Regions from separate parts of the Homo sapiens genome. Here region 2 is linked to region 1. The links come from fine-mapping of genetic effects on gene expression. A gene starts in region 1. The other region holds a variant in brackets. All regions are shown on one strand. Distances are from middle to middle. Region 1 holds the start of LINC01619 (long intergenic non-protein coding RNA 1619). Region 2 overlaps LINC01619 (long intergenic non-protein coding RNA 1619).

What was found. PIP is the estimated chance that this variant, and not a neighbour inherited with it, causes the effect.
Region 2: its variant is fine-mapped to the expression of LINC01619 in whole blood (TOPMed, PIP above 0.99).

What each region holds. Positions count from the first base shown.
Region 1 is chr12:92,135,220-92,150,752 of GRCh38, forward strand. It overlaps LINC01619 (long intergenic non-protein coding RNA 1619), which reads right to left and starts at 7,612. Exons shown (of 5, transcript NR_132341.1): 1 at 7,388-7,612. BTG1 (BTG anti-proliferation factor 1) reads right to left here and starts at 10,627. Exons shown (of 2, transcript NM_001731.3): 1 at 10,169-10,627; 2 at 5,059-9,228. The coding sequence starts at 10,316. The coding sequence ends at 8,861. It overlaps BTG1-DT (BTG1 divergent transcript), which reads left to right and starts at 10,866. Exons shown (of 3, transcript NR_135036.1): 1 at 10,866-11,024; 2 at 11,443-11,543. RefSeq lists enhancers at 6,712-7,001, 9,029-9,268, 9,289-9,338, 9,599-9,648, 9,608-10,144 and 1 more and a silencer at 10,069-10,388.
Region 2 is chr12:92,023,661-92,039,193 of GRCh38, forward strand. All of the region lies in intron 1 of LINC01619 (long intergenic non-protein coding RNA 1619), which reads right to left. Among named protein-coding and RNA genes, the nearest start is that of LINC01619, 110 kb to the right of the region's middle. RefSeq lists enhancers at 11,313-11,607, 11,331-11,640. The variant T/C (reference allele first, on the strand shown) is at 7,161.

The sequences.
Region 1 (15,533 bases):
GTTATAAAAGGAGAGGGAAAACAACTTATTTCTAATTTGAGGCCTGGCTCCACAGCCATATTTCTGAATCAAACATTAAGCGTCCCAAAACGGAATTTTCTGCGGTGGCAAAAATGTTCTAGCTCTTGATCAGGGTGTAGATTATATGGGTGTGCAAAATTCCCTGAACTCTTTGCATTTGATTATACAGATTTTTACATCAACTTAAAGAAAATAATTTAAGTGGCCCATACTTTGAAAGTTATTGTCCAGGAGGTACGTATACTCAAAATGTAAACCTAAAATGAAACTATTTTTTAAATCCTATTTAGGCTGGGCGCAGTGGCTCACACTTGTAATCCCAGCACTTTGGGAGGCTGAGAGGCAGGTGGATCACTTGAGGTCAGGAGTTCGAGACCAGCCTGACCAACATGGTGAAACCCGTCTCTACTAAAAATACAAAAACTAACTGGGTATGGTGGCGTGTGTCTGTAATCCCAGCTACTTGGGACATTGAGGCAGGAGAATCACTTGAACTCGGGAGGTGGAAGTTGCAGTGAGACGGGATCGTGCCGCTGCACTCCAGTCTGGGCACTCCAGCCTGGGCAACAGAGTGAGACTCCGTCTCAAAAAAAAAAAAGAAAAGAAAAGAAAAGAAATCCTATTTAAATAAAACTCCTTTGCAAAAATGACAAGTGCTATATTTTAAAGATATAGAAAATATTCAAGATCTGTTTGAATTGTGCTGTTTCATACACCATGAAAGTGACTCTAATCTAGTAGCTCACAATAAAATCCATCTTTTTATGCCAAACTTTTAAAACGTTAAAGGGTCACTAATATCTGTATCGGGAAAAAAAAAATCAATCTAGCCGTTTGGAAAAACCCAGCCTTTGAGTTCCATTTGGGTCCTTTTTGGACCAACTCCCTGACACCTTCATTAGGAAGTAAACACACTGCTGGTTGCCAACGCTTTAAAAAGAGATAATACTGTTAACAAGGCCTATAAAAGCGAGGTGACCATATGTCCTGGCTGATGCTTATAGTCTGTGTTTAATAATTAACAGCACCCTCTTTTACTCTCAAGAATCACGGTTTGGTTGATAAAATTCTCAAATTTTATCAACCAAAATGGTCACTCAAATGGTTATCAATCAAATGGACACGCTACCTGTAAAGCCCCACGATTTGGCCTCACTCCCATTAATTTCTCTCCATTCCAGTTTCACTGGTCTTTGTCCAACCCCTCCTGTTCACCATTACTCTTGAGCCAGGTTTTGTGCATATTCCTCTCTCTCTCTCGCCTGCCTTCTCCACTTAAACCCCTACTCATTCCTCAGATCTCAGCTCAAGTGTCCCTTCCTCTGGGAAACCTTTCTATGGCAGTCCTATCTCTCTATTAGAGCTCTCAGGACACCACTTCACCACTTCCCTTTTCCTCAGCATGTCTCAGATCCAGCCCAACATTTGTTGGATAACCCTCTCTCTGCCACTAGGTTCCAAGCTCATTGAGGGCAAGCACAGTGACTATTTTTGCAACCCTAGTGCTTATCACAGTACTTGGCACATGGAGGGACTCAACAAGTATGTGTTTAATAAATGAATGTAAGAGATATAGGTGATAGACACAAGACAAAACACCACTTGTATATTAATGACCAGAAAATATCTTAAGAAAGTTAAAAAATAACTGAAAGACTTAAAGGGTAGTGGAAAAAAGTGCAAGAATCTGAGAGGGAAAAAGAGCTTGTATCTAGTGATATTACCTAAGAGCTCCATCCTTAATTGTAACAATGACTACCGGCTTGAGAGAGAGAAATATTCCTGACAACACTGGCCACCTAACCCTTGTTTTAATGGGTTCCAAACTCTTATTCTTACATCACAATCTTAAACATTATAGGGGCACACTGACTGACTTATAAGGCTACACACATAGGTTCAAGCATGGCCTGAACCACACACGAGCTTTAAGATGCAAGACTTCTGAAAGGGTCAGAGGCTGATTTTCCCTAGAAGTCTCTTCAGGTTCAACAAAGAATGGGTCCTTTGTTTCCTATAGGATTGCAAAATAAATTAGCACAAAGCTCTGCTGGCTATCTACTTCCCTGATGTAAACCATAATGCTATACAAGCCCAACAGCAAGCTATTCAATGAGGATATCTGCACACAGAAAAAGCAACTTGAGTATAAACTAAAAGAATCCGTGATCACTGACTCATTTATGACTGGCTAGGGGAAATCAGTTACATTATTAGTGATTCAGGCAAACATTGCATCAGGTTACATCACAGGAAGAAACTCAAATTCAAACTGACAATTTATAAAAAGGCTGCTTTTCTTTGCAGTAAAGGAAATACTCACACCACTCTAGATTAAGAAGATTGAGAACCACTGAGTTCTGTTTAAAAATCACTGTTTGAAAATCTCTTGCAAAAGCATGGCCAAATACCAATGGTTTGAAGGACTAAAAACCCTGGGAAAAGTCAACTTCATATAGCAAAGGGTTGTTGTGAGGATTAAAAAACATAATGGAAGCAAACATGCTTTGTACAGGGCTACATTGCTATATATGTTCGGTTGCATTACTCCATCTCTCAACTTAAGGTGTCTTCAATATAGACAAAGGATCTGAAGGACTCTTTTTTTACTGAGAAAATAGCTCTGAAAACCACAATGTTAGGCACACAGCTCAGGAAAGCTCTATAAAATAAGATGCAAGGCCTGTGTTGTCTATTTCCATCCTTCACAATGGAAAAGCAGTTCATTTTCCTTCCTATATTATTGTATTTCAAAAACGCAAGTACATTTCTTGCAGCTATAGGCTAAAGCAATCTTTCAAGAAACTCCTAACAATCATACTATGATCAAATTGTTAAAACACACACACACACACACACACACAAGAAAACAATCAGCTATATTTTGTTGGCCTCCATGATAGAGTATTCAAATTCCAAGAATCCAAACATTCACTAGCTATATGATTTCATGTTTACCTTGACAACAAATGACTTGTCTCCATTATTACACAAGGAATGATGGGCTCAGAGAGGCTAAGCAACTGGTCCAAAGTCACAAGTTGGTACAAGTCAAGATTTCAACTTATTGGTCTGAGTCCCAGACTAGTATTCTTTATGCTAAATTCCAACTGCCTCTCAAAGAAAGGAGCCTAATTGTAGACTGCTATATGCCTCCGGAACATAGTGAAAGAGTTTCAAGGCTGAAAATAACCAAAGATGGCCAACTCACAATGAGAAGTTAAAATACATGTTCCAACAGTGTAAAAGAAGGTAGATAAATCATGCATCACAATGTAACAATAGTTAAGAGTTTGGATTCTGTGATCAGAAAAGCCTGAATTCAAATTGTGAATTAGCTGTTTACGAGCTGTCTGGCTTTAGGGTAAATTACTTAAGCTCTCTAAGCCTCAGTTTTCTATCCATAAAATGAAGATAAAAAATACTGACCCACTTGCCAACCTCATCCAGTTGTTGGAAGGTCAAATTAGAATATATATTGATAACTTGAAGACTCACAAGTACAATTTGTGGGAAATACAACTCCATTTAGTCTACTGACTTGGGACAAAACTGCCATAAATCAAGACAACTACTAGAAAGTGTACTCAAATCTGCTCATAAAGCAATTGTCAAGTCTAATCATTTTATGGCTTATGGTCATTTATGGAATCTTCTCAAATAAAGTCCAATTTGTTAGTCATCTTTTCCTTCAAAAATTTAGGGATGGCTCAGAACAAGAGGGAAAAGATACAGGGCCTTTCTTGCTAAGCCATAACTACTAAAATAATTAAATCACCCATCTACAACTTCGATAATTCAGTTCTCTTACAACCATGCATATCAATGTTACAAAGACCCTAAGATTTAAAAAAAAACTTCTGAGAAACAAAAATGTGAATTTCAACACACAGCAACACATAGTTGAATATATGGGAACATAGATTTCAAATTGGTGTAACACAATTTGGATATCTGTTGGCTGTAAAGGATGACTTAGTTTTATTATTATAAAGACTTATGCAAATAAGTTAAACTTATACAAGGCAATCCTCTTTGTATTGCTACACTAACTTGTCATTTTAAGACTTACCACTTAAAGAACATAATTATGAGTTATTTTGGGGAGAGCAAATATTCATCTACTTTAGTGAAAACCTAAAGAAATAGTCTCTAAATGTTTCTGATCATGCATCCTATCAACAAAATTTTTAGTGTATGTCAAATATATGTATATTTGTTTAGAAAATGTGCCACATGCTTTTGCATGCACACATGAAAATACATACAAAAATATTCTAAAAGAATGACAAAATAACTTTGGAGATGACCATCTAGAGAATCACTAAAAGTAAATGTACTCACGGGTGAAGTATCTCCTATTAATGCTACAATTTGAAATTATACATAGTGTTTGATGTAATATTCTCCAAATACAGGGATCCAGTTAACTATAATGGTACTAATGTGATGTTATATGTCTGGCCTACACTTGGTCATTTTTCTACCACCAGGAATGAGTCACAAATGGCCTTCACAACTTAAAGGTACAAGAAAAGAGGCTATAATCAAGTGGTTTGTAACAAGACACCTTTAAAAATAGTCTCCCTTTAGAAAATACTGAGACATTTGTGCTTTCCATCCACACCTCCCCCAAAACCAGTTCCCATGAAGTTCCACCTGTACTACCACTTTCACCTGCATGTTCACAGAAACAAATTGAATGCAGAGTCTCCCTGACGATTCATGAACTGCAGAATCCCCAGAGTAGAGATTCCTAAACTCTGCCAAGAGACTGTGCTGTGCAAACCTCTCGATACACAACTATGACCATAGCAAATGAATTTTTATCACCAAACCTTGCAATTCCTTCTCAGTTTAGCTTCCCAGTTTTCATTTTCCCCATCCTTTCCCTTTTTATCCAACTCTAGATTCAAATCATTTCACCTTTGAGCATCAGTACTCTCTTCTAAGCATACGTAATTCCCAAAAGAACACTGCATCTTCAATACTAAAATGATAAATACCATGAAAAGGCTCATAAATAACAGTCAGAAGTTGAACTACATTTTTTTATTCCTATCTTGGACATACTGAGCAATACGAAAAGTGATAAGCCAAGTTAAACCTGCAGTCAAAAAAAAACTGGTGTCAATCATACTCCACAAAGTGTTGAGGAAATGGTATCAATCCTCAGGATTAATACAATCTAAGGCTTACTTGTTTAGGAGCATTTCAAAAATATAACACTTAACATCAGAAGAAAATGATCTATAGGGATAAAGAAAATAAAGATCTATAGGCATAACCAGAAATCAGATCTCATAATGTACAGATTTCTCTATTTACAGTCCCATATATTAAATGATTTAAGGACTCAGTTAAGCAGCTGGGTCGGCTGGTATTACAAACTATCTTACTGTAAAAGATTTTGTGATACTGTTATATTAGTTCCAAATATGAAAATAAACCGGTTATATTTTGATAGCAGCCATATATAAAAGTTCAGTGGCAGAGACTGAGAGATAAGTCTAAAATGTTGGCAGTCTGTATACCTTCAGATAAATAAGAAATCTATTCAGTTTTAGACAATCCAAGATATACTTTTTGAAGACTTCCATGCATAGATAAAACTATTGACAAATGTTCTCCATATAGCCTATCAAGAGGATTTTATCACATCATTTGAAATAGGGGTGAAAAGGGGAGAGGAAGTATCTTTAAACTTCAATATGCAAAGTACAACTTCAGTTATCATACCTCTCTTCTGTAAAGAGGAAGAAGAGAGAGTATCAGAAATGTTAAAAGTCACGCAGGGAGAAGTCCAATAGTAGATTTATTTGCTCCCAAGATTAAAGGGAGCCTGGAAACCTGTAGTCATTAAACACTAGCCATCGGGAATACGGCTTCCTTCCTTTTAACTTGAAGGCCAATTTCATAAACTGCAACACCTATACAAAACAAAATTAATTACTTGCAATGTGTGAGTTATAATGACTTAAGGAAACTATTTGTGCAATGTACCTGAAAGCCACTTTCTGGTGGCCTTTCCAGTCTATTATTATAGAAATATTGCACATAAGGATAAAGACATGAGATTCCCATTCCAGATGACAAAGATAACAGCCGCATTATCCTGCATGAACCAGGGTAACTCTTGCTATACAATCCACTTGAAGCCTTGTTTCAACATTACAGAGGGAGGCACTACTTAAATTTGGAAAAAAGGAAATAATTTCAAAACTACCTGTTAAAACTTAGAAAGTAACACTCCTCAAACTTACTGCCAATCACAACTATGAATTCCTGGTGCCAAAGGCAACAATAATTTTGAAAGTAGTCATCCTATCTTAAAAGGATTTATAATAAAATATTTCAAAACATTCCCCAGAAACAGTGAACAAGAAATACATCACAAACAGCTACTGTACCGCAGATACAGGTTCAGCTCAATTGTCTGGGGAAGGTAAGGTTAAAGTCACAGGAAACAGCTGGTCTCAGAGTGATGTGTGCAAGCCTTTTTCAAAGACAAACTTATAAACAGCTCCTCACAAGCCAGACATCACCTGAATTCTAAAATAAACATTTTTATTAACTGTTTCCATCATTTTCAAAGATTGAAAAAGTCTGATGTCAAGATCTTCAAAAACAACTTTCCATTTGAAAAAAGGCTTTATGATAAAAAAAAAAAATGGTTGAGGTACTTAGTTTCAATGGAGTTACCAGATGAAATGTAGTTGGTAAACAACAGTAGTCAGCACTGGGGTGAGACCCATTTAAAAACAACCCTACCTGGTGTTTTTATTGTAATTCAAGTTTGAAATACCGAGGAGCTTTTTCACAGAATAGGTTTAAAAATAAAACCATAACAATTGGCAAGGGTAGTCCATGTGTTGCGGGTCTACGAATTCTAACTCTCGAGAATGGTGTGCCAATAATATCCACAGACATTTGTACTCTAAATACCTGCATATTCAGTGGCCTATTCCTGTGTTGTCTACAAAATCAGAATAATTTATTCCTGGGTGTAGAAATAACTTCTTAAAAGTTATTTGAGATTACTAATTTCAAGTAATTACTAATTTTATTTCAGACTGCGTATTTCCAGTGTCAACATGTTTACATATATACCAAAAAAAGGCCACTATATGTTAACTGTGTAGAGCAAAATTCAATTTTTCCACTTTCAATTTCCACTGAAAAACGCTGTTATCCTCTACAACTAAACAGCAAGTCCTTCTATTATATGGGGTAGTGAAGTAATCTACACTACAGCATTATCAAGGTTCACTTAGGTTTTTAGTATTTATCTGAAATAAAAGTCTGAAAATGAGGAATCGAGAAAGTCAGCATTTCAACTTTTGAGAATAAAAGTTCATAAACATACCTTTTGTTGAATTCCAGCTTATGTGATTTTTATGTACATCTTGCAGGTGATGAAAAGCAAAAAGCAACCAATCTCTCTGTGGTGTTTAGCCTGTTCTTTAAGACTATGGGTCACCTGCCCCGGGGAAATTTCTAATTGAACAAAGAATCCATGGGGCAAAGTAATTGTTTTTCAAAGGTGGGTCAGAATGGAACATTTATATCTTCACTTCAACAGGGAAGCAATGAAATGTAATCCTTTGAGTATCACATTTTTGGTAGATGCTACCGTGGTCTCTTATCCTTATTTCATGAGATCATTAGCCTGTGAATGTGTCCATGTTTTGACTTTAGAAATTTTTAAAACATGCTACTCCTGTGTTTCCTGTAAAACCTAAACATGTATATACAGAGCATCTTCATTCCTCATCAAATGTTTTTCCAGCATGACCAGTGTGCAACAGAGATTCAGTTTATAGAACCTGTCTTCTAAGAAAAAATACTTTTAGCTAAACCTCTATAATCATGACAAGAGATTGATTAAAATGCCAAGATAAGAAACGATTTATTATAGAGAGAAGAAAAATTTCTCATCCAAAATATAGAAATCTGTACAACTTTGCCACAATCAATATACATGAACTGTACAAATTTACACCAGTTCATAATTTACCAAATAAAAGATGACTAACAAAGTTCACAAAATAGATGGTGGTTTGTGGAAAAGACTTTTACCCAATTAAGTACAAGGAAAGTTACAAACCAGACCTCCACTTTCTAAAAATAAGAAGTTTACTCAGTCTTAGAAAACTACAAGCTAGCAAATGTACAGAGAGCTGGCTGGTGCTAACACCACAGTTGAGACAGTGTCTTTTTAAGGGTCTTTTTTAAAGCCTGTTGCCATGGCAGATTCTGGTCACTTGCTACTTTCAAGGCCAAAAACACAATACAAGGTCTGACCATTTCCCCAGGTCATGCTTACTAGTTTGTCTTTATGTACATTTATACATATTTAAGTGCTAGGTAAAAGTCTTGTAAAATTTCCAGTACTACCATGTTTAAAACGTTTAACTTTCCTATTAAAAGCTGCCGAAAAGGTTAACAATAACAACTTTCAAGTGTAATAGTGCAAATTCCCCTGCGAGATTTACTGCAGAGAAAGATTCTTTGAAATACAGATTTTCTTTAAAAGGATTGATGTAAAAATTTAGGTATGTCTGGGAGAAACTGAAACCACCCTAGGACTTCCCTCCCTAGCAAATAAAGTGATCATTTACTTGGACTCACAGGCTATTAAAATTAATCATTGAAAGGTACTGTCCAAACTATGGCACTGTCACTTAAAATTTTTTTTTTTTTTACCATTCTATCTTGTGCCAGATCTTCACAGCTGTGACATGGTTTAAATTCCATAATCCATCCCCAAGAGGAGCCCACCCAAAGCAAAAATCAAATTTATCCATCATCATCAGATGATCCATCCACAGACTATATCTTAACCTGATACAGTCATCATATTGTAGTTTTTGGAAGGGCTCGTTCTGCCCAAGAGAAGTTCCTCCTTACAGCTGATTCGGCTGTCTACCATTTGCACGTTGGTGCTGTTTTGAGTGCTACCTCCTGCTGGTGAGGCTTCATACAGCACACAGATGGAGCCATCCTCTCCAATTCTGTAGGACACTTCATAGGGGTCAACCCAGAGTGTGAGTTCACTTGGGAGAAGCCTGAACAGCTCCTGACTGCTCAGTCCAATCCGCTGTGCTGCCTGTCCAATCAGAGGATCCATTTTATGGTTGATGCGAATACAACGGTAACCCGATCCCTTGCATGGCTTTTCTGGGAACCAGTGATGTTTATAATGTTCTATAGAAGAAAAGAAGAACAGAGAAACAACGCTTAGGATCGTTAGCTCCCACTGCGGATTCCTCCTACCCCAGGCTCCTTTGAGGAGCGAAAATGAAAACTATCAACTTTTTAAAATGTCCAGGATTGCATCCGTTGTTGTGCATGTGCGGGGATGGAAAAAGCGGGCAGGGTTTTAGAAATAACACAGTAGTACCGGACAAAACAATCTCCAGGAACCAACCGGTTGAGCCGCCAAAACAGGAATCAGGCGCGCAGCCTCGGCCAGTCGGGAAGCCACTGGCACCTATGGCCAGGCGAGAAACTGTTTACTTTCTCCACCCCACCCCAGATGCACACAATGGAGTTGATGGCTTTGGAGATGAGAAGCGCCACCGGACTGTTAACCCCGAAGGGAAGAAAAACAAGCAACCCTAAACCACGCTCTGGGCAGGGCTGTTAATTGTGCCGGTGACAAATCCGATGATTAATGGGCAGGGGCAGGAGGCGCGGGGAGACGGCACGTCCGTTCTGAGCTGGCTCCGGGGCAGCGGCGCAGCTTCCCACCCCGGGGCTGGGCCGCCGACCACGCAACGGTTGGAGGGGGCTGAGGAAAGGGGACGTCGAACCCACCCCAGCCCCACGGCTCCTTTGTCCCCAAATCCGCCGACGGTCCTCGGACCGCAGCTCCCGCCTCGGTGGGCTTAAGTTTCTTTGTTGTGCGTGTTGTCTTCTCCTCTCCGTTTTGCCAGCTGGGGGGAAGGGGGCGCCCTCCGTCCAGCCCCTAAAGCCTCGCGGGGAACCGCTGTTAGCGGCCACCCAGCGCAACCACACCGGTCCCGCGGCGGGGCCCAAGCGCGACCGGCCCCGGGGCGCTGCCGAGGTTCCCGCAGCCCCGACGGCCGGACTCTGACCCAGGGATGTGGGGCCCGCGTCCCTCCGACGCCCTCGCCCTGCTCACCTGCCAGCAGCTCCTGCAGGCTCTGGCTGAAGGTCTGCAGCTGTCGCTCGCTCGTGAGCCCCTTGGTGCGGAGAAACTTGGAGATGAAGGACACGGCGGCGGCGATCTCGCCTATCATGGTGGCGGCCCGGGTGTAGAAGGGATGCATGGGGGCGGCGTGCGGGGGCGGCCCGGGGCGGCTGGGGCTCGGCGGCGCGGCCCCGACGGCGGAGCAGCCACCCCGGGCTTCCTCACCGGGCGGAAGGCTGAGAGGAAGAGAGGGCGTGAGGGGCGGACGACTACTTTTGTCTTTCTTTCTTTAGACTAAAAAAGTTATTTTCGAGACAGGAGGCGGCAGGAGAGAGGAAGAGACGAGCGATGGCGGCCTGGTCACATCGCTCGGACCTCCCCAGCTGCCTCCGCCTCCAGCTCCGCAGCATTCGAAGATCTCAATAGCTGCATTTCCAGCTCCGAGAGGCGAAGAGATGCAAGCGCCGTGCAGCACCCTTTATAGTGCCACGAAAAGGAAGTGGCGTAGCTGGAGCGTGATGGCCGACTCCAGCCAATCCGAATATCGCACCATTGTGACGCAAGCCGGTTCGGAGCCGAAAGGGGCGGGAAAAGAGTTCAGGAGGCGGGTCCAGAGATAGGGAAGAGAGGGAGGAGCTGACGTAATCCGCTTGTAAACAAATAAACCCGGAGTGGCGGCTGGAGACCCAGTTGCTTGTGTCGAGGGAGGGAGGGAGGGAACAGAGGGTGCGCGTGTGAAAGCTCCGCCCCCAGCCCTAGCTCCTCCTTCCCGCTTCAGCAGGTCCAGGCTCTGCGCCAGTGCATCCTTCTCCAAGAGTGCGCTGCCTGGGCCCGCTTGCCCTGGAGTGTAAGTGCTGGGTAAATAAGAACCGCCTGGCGCAGGCTGTGTCTACTCTTCACGCCGCCTTCTCAGATCGGGCTGCATGTCCCCACTCCGTGTTTACATCTCGTTCCCGCTCCGGGTCTCGGTGACTGGCTCCTCAAGCCGGAGACGCGTGTGGTGCGGCGCGATGCGGGCGCCAGCGCTGTGTGTGCTGGCGGTGCGCTGCCTTAGTGCGGGGGAAAGTGGAGGGAACGGTCCTGCGGGGCGTTCTGTCCAAGAAAAAGGACTGCAGCCTCGGGGAGCCAGGGTCCCCTCGCAGACGAGCTGCCAACGCCGCGGAGCCATTTCTGTTCCACCCTAGGGGAGGAGTAGGGGGATATCTTTTAAAAGTTTAATTGCAAAATAAGTAGGTTAGTAAGGCCATTTGTGGTTGCTGTTTCAGTAACTTCAGCAGTCAACGGAGAGAAGAGTGGAAACCTTACTGGATGCGGACAGGAGAGCCAGTTACTGAAAGCAGATATAACGCGGATCCTGTAAAGAGTGGTGTGTATCCAAAAAAAAAAAATCTGTACAATGTATTTTAAAACTTGTGTGCACAAAACTGAAGATTTTCTTTTTTACCTAGTCCAAATGCCGTCCTAGCCTGAGTCCTGCTCTTTATAAAAATAAAATAAAAAGAATTTGAAGCTTGTGAAAGTATTAAGTGTAGACATTCAAGTTTATTTGAAACCCTACCAAAAAAAAAAAAAAACAACCTTAAAAACCAGTGTAACAGGAAGGCGGGAGCCTGCTAAAACGATTAGGCCTAAGACAGGGTTAACCCCAACTCCATTAAGGAGAAGGGGGAAAAGAAAAAAAGAAAGATGAAGGGAGGCAGGCAGATGGAGAAAGCAAACAGGAGGCAGAAGTTGAACTCTACCAGATGGAAATAAATATCCCGACCTTAGTTGATCATCAATATTGCAAAACACACCACTTTGAGTGTTTTTTTTTTCTTTTTAATACTGAGCTAAAGGATATAGAAATGAAGCAAAAATAATGACATTATAAAACAGGAGAAAACGTTTTATTGTTTAAAAAATATGTAAAACTCGATTTGAAAAAATAACTTCTAGATTATTTTTTCATTAGTACACATAACTAAGTAGTTACATGTGAAAAAATTAAAGAGTGGTTTTTTTTTTTCTTATAGAACTTTTCAGATAGAACTCTGCTTAAAAATAGTAATTTCACTGGAGGCATGAAACCTCTTTTACTACTCAAAAAGAAGATCGAGAAGCAAAAGTAAATTCATGAAATTACCATAACACTAGAATAACAACTCCTGGTCTCCCACCTAACCTGACCCACCCTTAGTTCCCTGCTTTCACTTACATTGTCGTTAATGTGTCACTGAGTACAAATTAGGAGTCAAGTGAAAGTTTTTCTCTTCTAAACCTGGTCTCCAACTTGGCCTCTCGGTCATGTGCTTAAATTGTCTCATCTAAAAAACAGAAATATTAAATCAACAAAATGCTAGGATTGGACTCAGACTTCCCCCAAGCCCTTGTTCTCCATACTATTTTTAACTGCCTGCACTAGCAGCAGCAGGACCCCTTCTGAAAGCCTTATAAAACCAGTTGAACAGGGTTAACAGAAAGTTTAACCCATAGACTCAGGGAGAGTTACTTCCCGCACTGAGTTTTTCAAATTATATATGTGTGTTTCCCACCTTAAATCATCCCATTAGGAGACAAACTGATTTGAGAAACTACAGTAATTTTTAACTTGGGAATCTACAGAGTACTCAGAAAAAAACTGGAAATAAACATTAGTCTTAAACGTAAGCCTTAGATGGTACATAATGTTCATTGCTAATAGTTTTCAATTCCTGACATATATATGTTTAGTCACATTTTCTGGAAGTTTAGTCAGGCCCTTCCCATCTGGGAAACAAGCAGGTATTTCTGGACAGCTTTTGAATTACAAAGGTGCTTTCTGTGTTGTTGTGCTAAGTTTACCAAGGCTCTCCCAAGTACTTTATTATTATCATGCAATTTGATAGTAATTTATGAAATTTTTTTTTTTTTTTTTTGAGATAGAGTCTCGCTCAGTCACCCAGGCTGGAGTGCAGTGGCGCGATCTTGGCTCACTGCAGCCACCGACTCCCAGGTTTAAGTGATTCTCCTGCCTCAGCCTCCCGAGTAGCTGGGATTACAGGCATGCACCACCACGCCTGGCTAAATTTTGTATTTTTAGTAGAGATGGGGTTTCACCATGTTGGCCAGGCTGGTCTCAAACTCCTGATCTCAGGTGATCCACCCGCCTCGGCCTCTCAAAGTTTAGGGATTACAGGCGTGGGCCACCACGCCTGGCCTGTCTAATTAATTTCTAAAACTTAGAACATTTCTAATCAAAGTATTAAAAATCTTAGGAATGCTGTCAAAACAAATTCAAAAAATGAACCTGGGTTTTAAAATAAGTTGACAAATAAAAGCACAAATATTAGATATTGTTTCCCCAGTTGGACCCGCCCTTTCCCTGAAGGCACATTAGGGCCAGGGCCTTCCAGACTGAGCCAGAGGCAACCTGCCTGTTGCTAGTCAGCTAGCTGCAGTCACTAAAGTTGTGCTTATTACGCACCTACTTCCAGATAGAGTGCTAGGTGTCTAGAAAACTCACAACTTAACCAATAAGTACAGAGTCAAGTGAGAGTTCTTGAGAGAGTGTTAATGGCAAATAGAGACAGGGCACTTATTTATTTGTGTGTTGCGGGGCAGAGGGAAAATAAGAAAACCCCAAAAGTGAATGATCTCAGCTAAGCCAATGAAAGTGACCCAAGATTAGTTCTCCTTGGAGGAAAGGAACGGGCTTGATCTTGGAGTATCTCAAAGGCATAAACCAAGGAGGATAAGTATTGTTGAAAAAACTGGTAGATGGAGGCAGGCATAGGGTACTTGAGAGTACTCTTGAGAGTGTTTTTAGCAGACAGATTATATGATCAGATTTATCTTTAAATAAGTTAGCTTTTCTTGTGGGCTTATGTCTTCAACTAGATACCTATGCCTCTTATTTATCTATTTTTTTGTTACCCGCAGAAAGGAGAAGACCACTTTTAGTTGCCTCCCTGCTAGCACCCTGACTTGCTCTGCTTGAATAAGAATCCAAGGACACAAGCTAAGACATTTGCACTGGGTTTAGATCTACTGCGATTCACAAAACACAAAAGAACTTTCAGTCAGAGGGTGACACATAATGATTTTAGACAAAACTCAGTTTCTTCTGGTGGAAGCTATTCAGATTGTTTGGAGAGTGGGAGGAAAAAGGAGTGAAGCATCGCTTAACAACAAAAGTAATAATGCAGGTTATTATCATTTTATCATTAACAATGCATCAGTGCTAAGTGTTTTACATGCTTTCTATCTCTCTCTTTTTATTTATTTATTTATTTATTTTTTTTTTTGAGACTCACTCTGTTGCCCAGGCTGGAGTGTGGCGGTGCGATCACAGCTCACTGCAACCTCCGCCTCCTGGGCTCAAGCTTATCTTTCCACTCAGCTTCCTGAATAGCTGGGACTTCAGGCACGTTCCACCACGCCTGGCTAATTTTTGAATTTTTTGGTAGAGACGGGGTTTCACCATGTTGCCCAGGCTGGTTTTGAACTCCTGGGCTCAAGCGATTCACTCACCTCAGCCTCCCAAAGTGCTGGAATTGCAGGCATGAGCCACCGCACCCAGCCATGCTTTCCCATTTAATTCTCTAAGAAACCCAATCGAGTGAGTATAGTTGACAGCATTTAACATATAAGAATACAGTCTTAAAGAAAATAAGTAATTTACCCAAGGTTTTACAGCCAGATTTGAACTCTCAAGTCATGGACTACAAAATTTGAGCTCTAAATACCTGGTAGGGTTTTCAAGGGAGCTCCTGATATTACCTTTCCTAAAAAGGACCTTGAGAAATAAAACCTGATAAAGTTAGAAGACCATCTGGAGATGAGTAGAGATAGTAGTAGGAAAAAAAAAATCAAAACTCAAGGCAGCTGAGGGGACATCTCATAGCTGACATAATCTGTAAGATACAGCTACATTTATTAAAAGGCCCACTGGAAAATGAAACAAGGAACATATTAAAATGTTAATCTGCCAAATAATTTAACTGGAATGAAAATTATCCCTAGGTACAGATAAGAGAAAGTAGCAAAAGTGCTTTCTATTTAAGACCATTTAAACTTTTCATTTCCCCTTTGGCCTAAATTGACAAAAGGAACCAGGGGCCTGGTCAGTTCCACAATCTCTCTTGCCCAGCAACTGAGGCGGGCCCTGGAGGGTTCGGTGGGGGAGGTGGGAGGGCAGCAAGGAGGGATGGTTTTGTGTCCAGGTCACTGTTGAATCTGATCAGTGGCCTCCGGGAATTCTCACTCAACTTTCTACTGCATAGCTGCAGGGCCATTTCTCAAAGCTGGGCTCCTCCCCAAACCTTCTCCTTCCTGGTGCCAGAACCTCCTGGCCTATCTCTTTTTAAAGCTCTCACCGTCTATATTGTCACCGGAG
Region 2 (15,533 bases), 110 kb before region 1:
TCTCAACACTTTGGGAGGCTGAGACGGGAAGATGTCTTGAGCCCAGGAGTTAGAGATGAGTCTGGGCAACATAGTGAGACCCCATCTCTACTAAAAATTAAAATTAAAAAAAAAAAAACGGCCAAGTATGATGGTGTGTATCTGTAGTCTCAGCTACTTGGGAGGCTGAGGTGGCAGTATTGCTTGAGCCCAAAAGGTTGAGGCTGCAGTGAGCCATGTTCATACCACTGCATTCCAGCCTAGGCAACAGATCCATGGACACATAAAAAAAAAAATGGCCTCCCAGAACCCTCCAAATTTGACGGTGGGATTATTATTCCTATTTCACCCAAGACAGGAGACTAGAGAAGTCCTCTCTGAGGAAACCATCCTGTCTAAGAGACAGAACTACTGTTGAGTTTGAATTCAGTCTGTACACACAGTCTTCTTGAATGATTTGTTTATGACCAGTGCGTTCTGAGAGTCCTGGTACCTCTCTGAATGAATGATACCTATGCCATATCAGCCTTGGGGGCCCCCAATTAATGAGTTAGTTACTAGAAAACTCAGCAGTCAATAAGACTCAGCCTCATACACAGAGCATTTGATCAGCTATTTACAGTATCATTCTTATTGTGAAGAGTCAACCAAAGATTACCAGGTATTAAAGTACGCCACCAAGATGAAAAGCAAAGACATAAATAAATAAATAAATAAATAAATAATATAACTCGGAGGGAAAAGAGATAATTCAAAGGGCAGAATAAAACTCTTAAAAAGTTACACTTTCAGGGAATGCTTACATACTATTGGTGGGAATGTAAATGAGTACAACCTTCATGAAAAACATTATAGCAATTTCTCAAATAAGTAAAATTAGTACTTTCATTCAATCCAGCAATTTCACTATTTGGTATCTACCCAAAGGGAAAACATCATTATATAAAAAACATACCTACACTCATATGTTTATCATAGCACTATTCACAACAGCAAAAATATGGAATCAACCTAAGTGTCCACCAATGGAGACTGAATGAAGTTATATATATACACACATTTTATATAAATATAAAAAATACATTTTTATATAAGTATATAAAGTATGTATTTATATATGTTTTATATATATATATATATATATATGGCATGGAATACTACTCAGCCATAAAAAAGAATAAAATTATGTCTTTTGCAGCAACGTGGATGGAACTGAAGGCCATTATCCTCAGTGAATAACTCAGAAAGTTAAATACTGCATGTTCTCACTTATAAGTGGGAGCTAAACAATGGGTACATGTGAACATACAGAGGGAAATAATAGACATTGGAGACTTCAAAAAGTGGGAGGGTAGGAGGGGGTGAGGGTTGCAAAACTACATATTGGGTACAATGTTCACTCTTTGGGTGACGGGTACACTGAAAGCCCAGACTTCACCACTTCACATACAATATATGCATGTGAGAAACTTGTACTCCCTAAATATAAATAAATAAATAAATAAATATTATAACCTCAGAGAAATATAAAAAGATATTATATCCACAAAACAAATCAAACAAGAATAAGATGCTATTTTTTAAAGAGACCATGAGAAATATATGAAAGGATTCTTTCTGATTGACCAGAATTTTTTAAGTAGGTAGAATTAGAAACATAAAGTTGTAGAAATTGCCCAGAAATTAGATCGAAATAACAGAGATGGAAAATACAACAAATGGGGGGAAAAAACACAATTATAGGATTATACACAGGAGATCAGAGATCTGAATTATTGTTTCAGAAAAAATAAATTGAGAGGAAAAATATCAATAATACAAGAAAAGGTACCACATAAATGAAAGATTATACACATTAAAACCTTCAGCATGACAGCAAATATCTCAGAGTGACTTAATGCCATACACTGAAGCATGGAGTTTGCTAGTAAAGAATTACAAATACTTACTGACCAAAGATAGTCATGAGCTCAACTGCTTTATGGTAAAATAATTAGCAATTGAGTCTTCCTGCAATTGAGGATGTAATCAGTCATGAGACCACATCATGCCAATTTTCATGACCAGTTGAGTTCAGAAACTTTGTTTCTTTGTGGTTCATAGAAGTATTACTCCTAGATAAGAAGACTACTGTCTTTCGCTTTGAGACGGGAGTCTCTTTTAGAACTCCAAACATCAAATGTTCAAGTCTGAAAGCTCATAACTGTCCAAAAGGAGTTACCCACTAAGTGACTTGAATTACGCCTAGAATTCATTTCTCTATCTGTTCAATTTTCATCCCCCATGAGAATCTTCAATAATGCTAGAGAAATATCTTCAACAACAGCAGCGTGATGACTTGCAAACATTTACTGAGTAGTTCCCATGGAGGCATGAAAATACACTGGAAAGCAGGCTCATCAGATTACAGGGAGAGATGAGCAAAGCAATTTATTTATTTAAACTTTTTATATGAAAAATTTCAAATATATTTTGAAATTTCAAAATTCAAAAAAGAAAAAAGAATATAATAAACTCCATGTACTCTGCTTCAATAATTGTCAACTCACAGTCAAACTTGTTTTATTTACACCCCCATCTAATTCCATTCCCCCCCACACCACTGGATTATTTTGAAGCAAAACCAAGCCATCACATCATTTCATCTTATGTATATCTTCATATGTATATGTATATATGAAGATATACATGAATTTATACATGAAGATGAAATGAATATATATATAGGAATGAATATATATGAAGATGAATATATTTGATATATACATATATAATCAGAAATAAGAACTTTTCCTTAAATCTAAGCACAATTCATTATCATAATTAGAGGTGATTAACAATAATATATAATATTACTAACTATTCAATCACATGTGCATGTGTGTGTGTATGTTTTGGAAACACTATAGGTTAAAACATAGTTGATTGTTTTAATTCTTGTAGTTATTATTATTTTATTGAGGCTCACATCATCTCATCTTTGCCTAGAAAAAGGCTTCCCTAGCTGGCTCCAAAGTGTTTTAGACATAGCCCCAAAAGTCACTGCTAGCTCTCTTGCCCTTCAGTATGATAAATTATTCCAGGTTCATGTTACACAATTCCTGCCCCAGATCTGTGATCAGTTCTCGCCCAAAGATCCCAGGTTCCTTTTAGTGCTCACAGTCTGAGCACTAGATTTTGAACCTAGTAAATGAACCCAGAGATACTCATTTTACCTACCTTGTCATTATTGCTAAGTCTTTTCAGTCAATAGAGCCAGGGAATTTATATTTTTACATTAAAATACATCACAATTTCAATTAATAATTACAATATAATTTAAAGACTAGAAGGTTTCTTTTTGGCTCTGTTTTTGTTTTCTGAGACAAGTTCTGGCCATCACCTAGGCTAGAGTGCAGTGGCCCAATTACAGCTCACTGCAACCTTGAAATCCTGGGCTCAAGCGATCTTTCTGCCTTGGCCTTCTGAGTAGCTGGAACTACAGGCATGCACTACCATGCCCAGCCATTTAAAAAAAAAATCTCTTTTGTAGAAATGGGGTCTTGCTGTGTTGCCTAGGCTAGTCCCAAACTCCTGGGCTCAAGCAATCCTCCCACCTTGGCCTCCCAAAGTGTTGGGATTATAGGTGTGAGCCACCACAGCTGGCCAAGACTACAAGGTTTTTACTTAAACGTTTTTTCTCTTAAATCTAAATTACCTTTCTTCCATACCAAAAATCCTAGTTCCTGATACCAACATAATTTCACTTGCTTTATCCCATAATGCACACAACAGTCTCAAGAAGAACGAGAGAGAGAGACAGAGAGAGAGAAAGAGAGAGAGAGAAAAGAGAAAGAGAGGGAGGGAGGGAAGAAAGGAAGGAAAGAAGGAAAGCAGGAAGGCAGGCAGGCAGATGTAAACAGTAACAACACTATCATCAATAATAATTTTAAAAAACAATGTAAAATTGTTTCACAATTCTTTTTCTTAGGAGATATCTACATACTGTATCATTTGAAATCATTCCTCTCTGTGAGTATGCCACTAATTTGAGACTTAGGTTCATTCATGTCATTTCGCTTTCAAATTTCAGAGATTGCTTTGTTTCATGATTATTTTTTATAGTCGTGTTAAACATTTATATGCTTTTGAATTCAAAACAAAAACAAAATAGATTCAGACATATCTAGCTGTGAATCCTGTCCCCCACCACCTGGTTTCCACCCTCCTCCATAAATAATCGTTTCCTGCAATTGCTTTTAGCATAAGCAAATTTGTATTCAGATTCCTAGTTAAATAGTAGCATGGTGGACACATTTTTTTTCACCATGACTTTTTCTTACTTAGCAGTAAGCCCTAGGGGTTATTCCATAAACTTACTGATTTTTTTTTTTAAAAGTGTGTTACTTACTAGCCCAGGTGAAAAATTTTGTCTATAAAATGGGACCATTAGTAGGCAGCTGCTGGGAAAAAGAAGATTTAATCCAAGAGTATTATTTTTAAAAATATGCAGATTGGGGCTTTATAGTAAACCTTCATAAAATGACTCACCAAATTCACAGCATCGAGCTGGGAAAAATTAGAGTAGGTGGCTTTGCTTCTTACAGGCATACACAGTGTACAATTTTACCATGCAAAATGCTTTTGCTACTACAATTTTCCTTTGCTTTGCCTTTTTGAAAAGTAATGTTCCTTCCTATTTTAGTAGTACCATTTGCATTCCTATTATTCACACTGAACTGTGATTTCCATTTTTATCTTCCGTTTTTTACTTGTTTTCATTCCAGCATTTCTCCTCTTGGTCTTTGCCTTTCCTTTATCTTGCCCTTAAATGGAGGCCTCGTGTGCTATGGGAACAGTGCCATGAATTTTCTAACCATCATGCCAGGCCTCATCCCAATTTAATGATATAAGTTCCCTTGAACCATTGCCAACAAAGCTAGGACATCCCACACACATTTGCTATGGAAACACCTTCATGACTAATGGTCTCTCAAATTAAGGCATCTTAAAGTTAAAGCTAGAAATGGTATTCATTTTTTCAAAACATATTCTGCAGTCAAGGAAAAATATATAGCAGTTCTCTAAAAGTTATGAGTTGCTGTATTATTATAATACCCAGTTTCTCTGAGAGGTAGACTCCTACAAACCCAATCTCAAGGTGTGTGCAAAATGAACGCAAGAATTAGTTGATACTCCTCTGTGTCTTTAACTGAGTAGCCTCTGTTCTCCTCTGCTGTGTGTTTATGAGCTCAGGTCTTTGGATTGTGCCAAGTTCTTTACCTTAGAACAGAAGCAGAAACATTCAAGACCCTGCATGATTTGGATGCTGCCAAATCAGCAGATCACATCCCACCACTTTTCCCTCTCACACTGTCATAGCAAATTACACAGACTTCTTCAGGCCCACCAGGCCACTTTGTGCCTTTGTCCAAGCTATTGCCTCTGTCTAAGAAGACTGTGCTCATTTCCCAGGGGAATCTCTGTTTTATTCTTAAACACCTTGTTCAGGCATCACCTTCTCTAGCACACCTTCTTCTCCTCCCCAGTGAGAGCCGGCCCTTTTCTTTCTTCCATCTTTTCTTATGTATCCATGGATCTGTGACTATCTAGAGGGCAAAATAGATGTTCATTTGTTCCCCACTATGTGGCACCATGCCTGATTAGTACTGGTTCTGCTCAACCATAAATGATGGTTAATTAAATAACGGAATGAGTCAATGGGCATGTGATGTGCTCTCTTAGGTGTAAAAGGGAGACTACACTACCACCTACATACATGTTGCATTGAAATATCTGACTTAGATTTCCTCTGTTTCACATCTCTGTTTGGAAGGAATGGGGTTTTAACACACATCTCTGATTGCTGACCATGATGATTACCATAAAAATGGTGAGCATTATGGCCAGATGGAAATGAGATATGTTGATTAACTTGAATGAAGCAAAGTGGGCTTTGCCACTCTCTGTTCTTTTAACAACCCAGTCTTTAAAATCCATGCAGACGAACATCCCAGGAATCCTTTTCATCTTATATTGGGCTTTCCTATATGATGCCTCAATGCTCCTTACATTGGCTCAGCCTTGGCATATCCTTCTAATTGTCACCTTCCATTCCCTACCCACTGCTCCTAGTTGAAGACTGGCCTGCCCTGGAGTCATGTCTACACATCCTAATGAATGCGTGGCAAAAGTTGCTAATTTGATTGATTAATTTATCCAGCCCAATGAGGCAAGACAAGAGTAGTGACTCCCTGGTTAATTATAGTATGAATAACCTGTGTAAAATTATAGATGGACAGGCCTTATTCTTATGTGTTTCTTTTCAACCGGTCTGGGTTTGACAAAGGATCTCACTGTTCTTATTAAAGCAGTTTCATTATTCCAATGCTAAGGCAAGTTTTGGAACTGCCCAGTGAGAAGCAGAGTCACAGGACATACCTTATGCTCTCTAACAAATGCCATCCAAAAAACAGACACCACTGTTGTCCATCTCCTGGATGACAAAGCAGACACTTTGCAACACAGCAGAGGAGGCAGAAGGGAAACAGCTTCCTTTGCTGGTGACCAGCAGAAGCCACCCCTATTCCACTTATGCCTTTATAATCTCCAAATGCAATGGAATAATTTTGCATCAGGTTCCTGACCACAGAAATGAAACTTTTTTTCTTATTACATTTGTGTGTTTGTGATAGATGTGATTACTAAACACAGGTTTATTCGGAAGTTAACATATCTGTTGCACAAAAAGCCACTTCTCCAGCTCTTACTGAAGGGGTCATTGAGAAGTCAGAAATTCCAGTTCCTAAAAAGCTGGATGACTTTACTAATGCTGTCTTTTCTCAGTATCAGGCTTTATTACACCTTTTCCCAGAAGCCACTCTTCGTTTCCTAACTCTATCACAGCAGGGTTCAACAGAGTAGCTTTCTCCTATGCTAAACAAATGATTTTTTGAGATTTCTTTTCCACTCACTAAGCTTCCAGTACTATCTAAGTTTGCCAAATATCTCAAAGGAATTAAAGATCTAATTTAAGAGAAGATGGCAAGTGCCTTCTCAAAGAAACCGGGAGTACCCATCCTTAATGGTAAGAGTGACAAAGGAGGAAGCAGCAGTGGCCCATTTCCTCAGCCTCACTGAGCAGCATCTATGAAAAATGAGCTCAGCTGTTAACAGCCCGGGAGGGACTGCTATCTACCACA[T/C]CACAGTCAGTTGAGAAGAACAGGATGTTCTGAGTACAGCATGAACCTCAAAGCTAGAGTCAAAAACCATATTTCCCAGGCAAGTGTTTACCTTTGTCTTCAATCTTCAAGAGAGAACGTTTCTGTTCTATGAAGAGTTAAGAAAACCCTGCCTGAGAAAGGAGCAGTGCAGAACTGATACACCTCTTTATTTTCACCTTATTAATGAAAAGAAAGCTCACTCTGGGTTGATAACAACATACCAATATAGGAAGAGTGCCAAAGTAACCCTGGCACTCTTCCTATATTCTTTTTTTTTATTATTGTATTTTAAGTTCTGGGATACCTGTGCAGAATGTGCAGGTTTGTTACATAGGTATACAAGTGCCGTGGTGGTTTGTTGCACCCATCAACCTGCCATCTACATTAGGTATTTCTCCTAATGCTATCCCTCCCCTGGAACCCCCACCCAATGTCAGGCCCCAGTGTGTGATGTTCCCCTCCCTGTGTCCATGTGTTCTCATTGTTCAACTCCCAATTATGAGTGAGAACATGCAGTGTTTGGTTTTCTGTTCCTGTATTAGTTGGCTGAGAATGATGGTTTCCAGCTTCATCCATGTCCCTGCAAAGGACATGAACTCATCCTTTTTGTGGCTACATAGTATTCCATGGTGTATATGTGCCACATTTTCTTTATCCAGTCTATCATTGATGGGCATTTGGGTTGGTTCCAAGTCTTTGCTATTGTGAATAGTGCTGCAATAAACATACGTGTGCATGTGTCTTTATAGTAGAATGATTTATAATCCTTTGGGTATATACCCAGTAATGGGATAGCTGTGTCAAATGGTATTTCTGGTTCTAGGTCCTTGAGGAATCATCATACTGTCTTCCACAATGGTTGAACAGGCACCCTACAGAATGGGAGAAAATTTTTGCAATCTATCCATCTGACAAAGAGCTAATATCCAAAATCTACAAGGAATTTAAACAGATTTACAAGAGAAAAACAAACAACCCCATCAAAAAGCAGGCGAAGGATATGAACAGACACATCTCAAAGGAGGACATTTATGTGGCCAATAAACCTATGAAAAAAAGCTCATCATCACTGGTCATTAGAGAAATGTAAATCAAAACCACAATTAGATACCATTTCACGCCAGTTATAATGGTGATCATTAAAAAATCAGGAAACAACAGATGCTGGAGAAGATGTGGAGAAATAGGAATGCTTTTACACTGTTGGTGGGAGTGTGCATTAGTTCTTCCTTGATTCTTAAAGGAACCATGCTTAATCTCCAGGTCTACTTGTTTACAGCTGAAGTGAGCCCCCAAGCAGTTATAGATTAAATTAGTTTGCATCAGGTAAATTGGTTTCCACCAAACTGAATGAAGGCACAGAAGCTGGTTGGGATTCTTCTGTTAAACATTGTCTAGTCTCGGAAAGCAAAAAATAATAATAATGAAAGGAGGCACTAACAAGGAAATGAAGTAAGTTTAATGCCTAAAAATAGCCATGCTTAGTAAATACTCATTTCTCATCCTCAGTGAGTCCCTTTGTAAACTGCAGTTAAAAATGAAGGCTTAAGATGTGCAATCCAGGAGCTGTCAGGCCTAACTTCTATCAAGTATCACTGCTTAGTTGATAGCTGGTTGAGCATAGAATTTTAGAATCAGACATATCTGGTTTTCATCTGGGTCTACTTCTACTCATCAAGGGATCTTATGAAAGTGAATTAACCTTTCTGAACCTGTTTCCTTTCTTAAAAAGAACTATTGTGATAATTAAATAAGAGAATGCATATAAAGGTTGTATACAAGTTTTGTCACTTAAGACATACTCAGTAAGTATTATTATTATTACTAAATCAGTATATTAATCAGGACTCAATTGATTGTAAGTAAAACCGATCTCAGTCAAACTGACCTAAACATAAAAGGAAAATTGTTGCCCCACATGATTGAAAACTTCAACGGCAAGTTAGATTCAGGCACATATGGACCTGGGCACTGAAATGAAGCCCCAGGTCTTGATGCTCACCCGAATCTTTTTCCCCACCTTCTTCCATCTTGTGCCTTTGTTTTGCTGTTTTGCCTTCATTCTTCTGCAGCCTTTTTTCAGAACAATTCTACACTTATATTTTCCCACCTGAGAAACCTTGGCCCTATCAAAAGCTCGCTCTCTATACCTCATTTATTGGATCATATGCCCTTCCATCTCTGACCAATCACTGTGGCAGAGAGATAGAGAGGAAGAGAGAGAGGGAGAACTCAAACTGACCAAGCTTGAGTCGTGTGCTCAACCTGGAGCTGGAGGGTGATGCCAGCCACACTAAACCCACAGAATTGAAAAAGGGAGAAGGGAGTGACCCGAAGAAGATAAGGGGGGCCTGTTACTCAAGAAAGAGAGCATGAATGCCAAGCAGATATACTTGCAGTCCAAAACTTAACTTTTGTTTTCTTAAAGATAGTTGCCAAGAAACAGATGAAATGCAAACTTCACCTTCAAACTGAGAGAACAAGGTCTGCAAAGATGGAACAACTTCTCCCTTCTAAGGTGAAAGAAATAGGAATATTGGATTCATAACCCCTTAAGATGTTGACTTGCCATAGGTATCACCAAAGGACGTTCCAAGAATAGAAATGTTCTTGATGTCAAGCTAAAGTTTACATGTAGCTGGCCCTTTTTGGTCACCACATATGGTTTGGGCACGTATTTATTTTGATTCATTTTGACTCTTTTAAATATGTTTTATCTGTATTTTATGTTGAAAATATATCTATCTAACTGCTTTCTTTTTATATGGCCCTAACCATGTCTCACTCAGAAATAGTGTCCCTTCATTCTAATGTGACTTCTTCCTAGTGTTTCACCATGCGGTGAATGAAGAGGGGTGCTGGAAATGTCCCCAGATGTTCTAACATACTTGCCAAAGCTGATTACAGCATTTTTGTTTAATTAAAACAAACTTACATGACATATTTCTTTTCATAAAGGTAGTTTTTGTTTAATTGTAGAAAAGTTAGAAGATACAAATAAGGGAAAACAAGGAGAAGAAGGGAGAGAGGGAGACATGAATGAAGAAAGAGAAGAAGAAAGGAGGGAGGGAGGAAGGGAAAGAGAAAAGAAGACTTGCAGAGAAAACTTATCATCCCCAGAGAAGCCATCATTAGCATCTAAATGTTCAGCTTTTCAAAGCCCCCACCCCTTTTTTTTAACTATATATGGTGGGGTTATTTTTACAAAAATGTGATCATAGTCTTTTTTTTATTTTTATTTATTTATTTTTTTTGAGGCACGGGGCTGGCTCTGTTTCTCAGACTGGAGTGCAGTGGCTTCCTGCAGCCTTGAACTTCTGGGCTCAAGCAATCCTCCCACTTCAGCCTCCAGAGTATGTGGGACTACAGGTGCATGCTGCCACCACACCTAGTTCTTTTTTTTTAGTAGAGACAGAGTCTGCCCAGGCTGTTATCAAACTCCTGGGCTCAAGTGATCCTCTCGCCTTGGCCAACCAAAGTGCTGGGATTACAGGTATGAACCATTGCACCTGGCTGAATCATACTTTTATAACTTGCTTGTTCCACTACTCCATATATCTAAATTATTAAATATTATTTCTACTAAATTCTTAATACTAGGAGTTCTTAACCTTTGAGTGATAGACAGGTTCCTGTTTAAATCTCTTTATATTACATGAAAATGTTGAGCATATGGAGATTTTTCTAGGGAGATGGTTCACAGCTTTTATTGAGCTCCCCAAGGGTGCCCACAATCAAAAATTTTTAAGGCCACTGTTTTACACCCTCATTTTAAATGGTAAAAATAGATATATCTGGAAGAGATATAAACAGACACATATCATGATTTTTTTAACCAAATTCTTGTTACACATTTAATTCCATCCCACTTTTGAACTATTATAAACAATATGCAGTGAACTTAGCTTTTAAAACTTTAACTACATAACTATTTCCCGTGATACTGGCAGAAATGACATTGCTGGGAATTTTTTCAGTGTGAAGTAACACAGATTGACAAATTGTCACAGCACTTAACAAGTGACTTTTTACACCATAGAACCCACCTTGTTCAGATACTACAGCTAGAACTGTATCATGAGAGAGCCACCCTCCTGCACATACTGCAGGAAGGAGCAACATTTCCTGCATTTGTTTGGTTTTGTTACCGACTTGCCGCCCTGCCTGCCACTTTGAGGCACAGTTGCAGCGCCTCTGTTTACATTTTTGGAGGACACGTGGACAAGCCCAGGCAAAGCCGAACAGCACACGGTACATCAATCACACAAGGAACATCTGCTGATTCCCTTGGGGGAAACAGAATGATTCCGAGAGTTGGGGCACTGCCAACGGGAAATTCACACAGATGAAAGCAACAGAATTCATGCTTGCAGTTTCAAGGGGGTGGAGGAAGGAGGAGAAAGAGAGTGGGTAAGCAGCAAGGTGAAATACAGGGTTCCCCCCCGAGTCTCACTTGTTACATATGAAAAGGTTTAAATCAGTGTTTTAAAATATCGGAACTGGAAGTTGTGAAAGCAAAACTATTCTTTGGTTTCAGATGTATTTTCATCTAGAGACCTTATTAAGGAATTTGCTAGAATAGTTTTAGTGACCCAAAAATAAATATTGATTGGTTCTGTATGTATTTATAAAAGTATACCTGGTCTGGGGGATCTGAGGCTACTGGATCATAAGAGAGTACAATGAAACCAGAGTGTGCTAACCTGCACATCTTGAAGGACTAACATCTTCCAGGTTTGCTGTTGTTTACGTGCTGCCTGTGAAAAGCAGAGTTTTGAGTGTTTTCAGCACCAAAGTCCCCTCAAAGCAAAAGAACAAAACCATCAAGATGTTATTGGTAATTCATAATCTGAAGCTGAGCATATAAGAATTTGTCTTTTTTAATTGTGGATACATTGAATTTGGGCTCCCAAATGGTGTTCTTATGATTTCAGTTTTTCTCTCAGAGAAAATACTGTACCAACAAGCCCTGTCAGAAGTCACCTCCAAATGCATGGAATACCAGGAATGACCCCTCCCTTCCTTCAGATCTGATATTTCCTTGGCAAGCACTTTTTCTCAGACTATCTTGCCATCGAATTTCTATACCGCCTCAAGATGACACTTTGTCTAGCAAAAAGTGATGCAAAGCTCTTTTGCAAAAGCCCCTCAAATTAATACACCTTACATATTTTCACTAATAAAACTTTCCTTGGAAGCCCCATATGTGTAATTATGCTTTCACAGATGTAAACAACTAAAACACAAGAAGATTAAATGATCTCTCTGAGATGACCTAGCAAATCATCCACCAAATGCATGATGTCTGACAACTTATGACATACAAATGCTTACACTGACAACTCGCCCTCATCCTTGTTTCTGTGCAGAAAAATAAGGGAAATCGTTTACTGGCCCAGAAGACCTCACGATGGCAAATTCAATCAGATCCTCATTAACCAGATCAAAATGAGGCCTGACAGAGTCTTCATTAGATCTACAAAATCCTGTTCGTTTTAGCTCTGAGTCTCCTGACTTGTCCGTGTCATCATAAATTGGTTGTTTTGAAGTCAGAGAGGACAAAGTGCTTGCAGATGATGGTCACCCTGCCTGACCTATAAGGACAAGGTTCTGTTAGAAAAAATGAAACAGTGCAGCAGTGGCAAGGCCTGGCCAAAGAAATAGGTTTGCTAACCGGCAAGAAACAGAGAAAAGAAAAACCCAGTTATTTAAAAATACTGACCAAAATACTAACAACTACAAAGACATTGTCCCAGTCCCATCACGGAAACCAATGTAAACTTCTCTTGTGAAGCTGAATTACAGGTCACTTAAGTTCTATTACATACATTTTACATTCCCAGTCAGAAAAATGGCATCCTCTATATCTGAAAAAATTCATCTAACCCCAGATGAAGTCTTCTTTTTTTTTTTATAATGGAATTAAATTCTGTCACTTTTTTTAGCAGTGGTGCCAGCGAGACCAGCCACTGAAATAAGCAGAGTTAATGGCCATTGAGTTAACGGACTTGAGAGGGGCCAAAAAGCCGGCTTGCCAATGTGCCCGTGGCTTCCACCATAAAGTCACTCCAATGAATGGGGCACTGCATTTCCAAAATTCTCCTGTCACAAATGCTAATGTTGACCTATCACAGTGCCCAGGCCATCACAGACACTCAATGTTTATTGAATGAATAAAAGAATGATTGTTGCCTGTGAATGATAATAAGTTTTGATTATATTGGTTAGATTCTATTCCAAAAATATGTAAGTATCTGGAACATATTAACTCACTTGCTCTCACTATATGTGGTTATGAAATAGGTTCTCAGATTGGCCCTTTGCCAACAAGCCCAAGCCAGCTCTTAAAGAAATGGAACACTGGAAAGGAAAGCGTGGGACAGAGGCAATGAGATATGAGAAGGAGGGACTGGGAAGATCCTGAGGTTTGGCAGAGAAAGAAGCAACTTGATAGGTTAACTCATATCCGTGGCTTCCAGCACACTGTGGAGACCCATACCAATCTCCCAGAGGCCTAGAGGAAGAGTTTTACCATCCAAAGGAACTACTGATTAGTGGTTAAGCACACAAATTCAGGAGTTCAAATTCCTGCTCTCCTACTTCCTAGATGTATGACTCGGTGCAAAGTATTTAACTTCTGTCTGCCTTAGATATTGTTGCCCTGAAATGAGCGTCAGAATAACTCTCTCCTTGGGCCTTGTGAGGAATAAGATAATACACATAAAGCCCACAGAAGAGTGCTGGCCTGGCCTAGGAAGCACTCAGTTAATGCTAATTTTTATTCTTATCATTAATATCTCCACCTTATACTATCTCTAAGTAAGACAGTAGGGGTGAGCAATTTATCTCATACCATCACAGCTTCTACAAATACATAATAGAGAAGTTGGCTAACTGCGTCAACAGCGGTTGCCTCCTGTTAGTATATGTATCTCTGCATGAAGGAGATAGATATGTGCTTTTCACATTTATGCTCCTGCTATGGGTAAATTACTAGACCTTTCCTTGCCTCAGATGATGAATAGAAAAATTAGATAATAATAGTATGTGCCTCATTGTATTGCTGGAGAAGAGAGTTATATGATTTAGGCCAGGGGCAGTGGCTCACACCTGTAATCCCAGCACTTTGGCAGGCTGAGACAGGTGGATTGCTTGAGCTCAGGAGTTCGAGATCAGCCCGGCCAACATGGTGAAACCCCATCTCTACTAAAAATACAAAAATTAGCCAAATGTGGTGATGCACACCTGTAGTCCCAGCTACCCCAGTGGCTGAGGCAAAATAATCATTTAAACTCAAGAGGCAGAGGTTGCAGTGAGCCAAGATCATGCCACTGCACTCCAGCCTGGGCAAGAAAGTGAGACTCTATCCAAAGAGAGAGAGAGAGTTAGATTATTTAATTCCTAGACATAATCTAGAACAGTACCAAGTAGATAACAAGCATGGTCAATATTATTTCATATGGATGTGGGGGGTAGAGGTATGAGTGTGTGTTCCTCACAGTTTTTCTAAGGATGAGTACGATCTTGATAACCAATTTTCAATTTTAAAAAATCTGGGAACACATAGGTATTTACCCAAAACAGTTCTTTCACAGTATGGAGGACAGGTGCCACTGACATGATAAGGTGACAGAGACTTTGTTTCCTCAGCTTTGTGTTCCCCCTGAACTGGTCTGAGTAAAAAATCCATGCCCAAATCCGGGCTCTGGGGCGAAACCACTGTTTAATTCAGCAGCAGCGATTAAGGTCACCTAAAAAGATTATTGAAAGCATGATGCTAGCACTCATTACAGAGGGCTAGGGTTGATCCCTGGGTTAGCAGTCCTCACTTCCTGTGCTGCCCTGGGCATCAGTCTAGAATCACACACTCTGCATCCAACCTCAATTCCCTCAGTGGCCCCTAAGGGAGAGACTAATCTGCCATTTATTTCCAAATCGGTGAAATGGAAGGGCTATTTCTAACTCTGGGAAAGTGCATTGGTAGGAATGAGGCAATAAGCAGAGGAAACAAGTTTTGGGGGCTCTTTCCTCTGAATTTTAAAGTCAGAGTTTCCTGTGTAAGCAAAGCCGGGATTCTTTTTTCTCATTTAAGCCTACGCACCTACTGCGCACAACTTTGAAACTCAGAATGATTGTTCATAGCATAGTTCTGTAAAATAAATATACACATATAGATCCGTAAGATTCTAGGGGTGGGCAATGTATTCCTTACCCTTCCAACTTCTACAGATACACAATAGGTAAGTTGTGTAACTGCCTCAGCAGCTGTTTCCTATGCTTGGAATATGCGCGTCTGGATGAAGGAAAAAGACATGTGCATTTCACATAGAAACTCAGCGCAGTCCCCAAGTT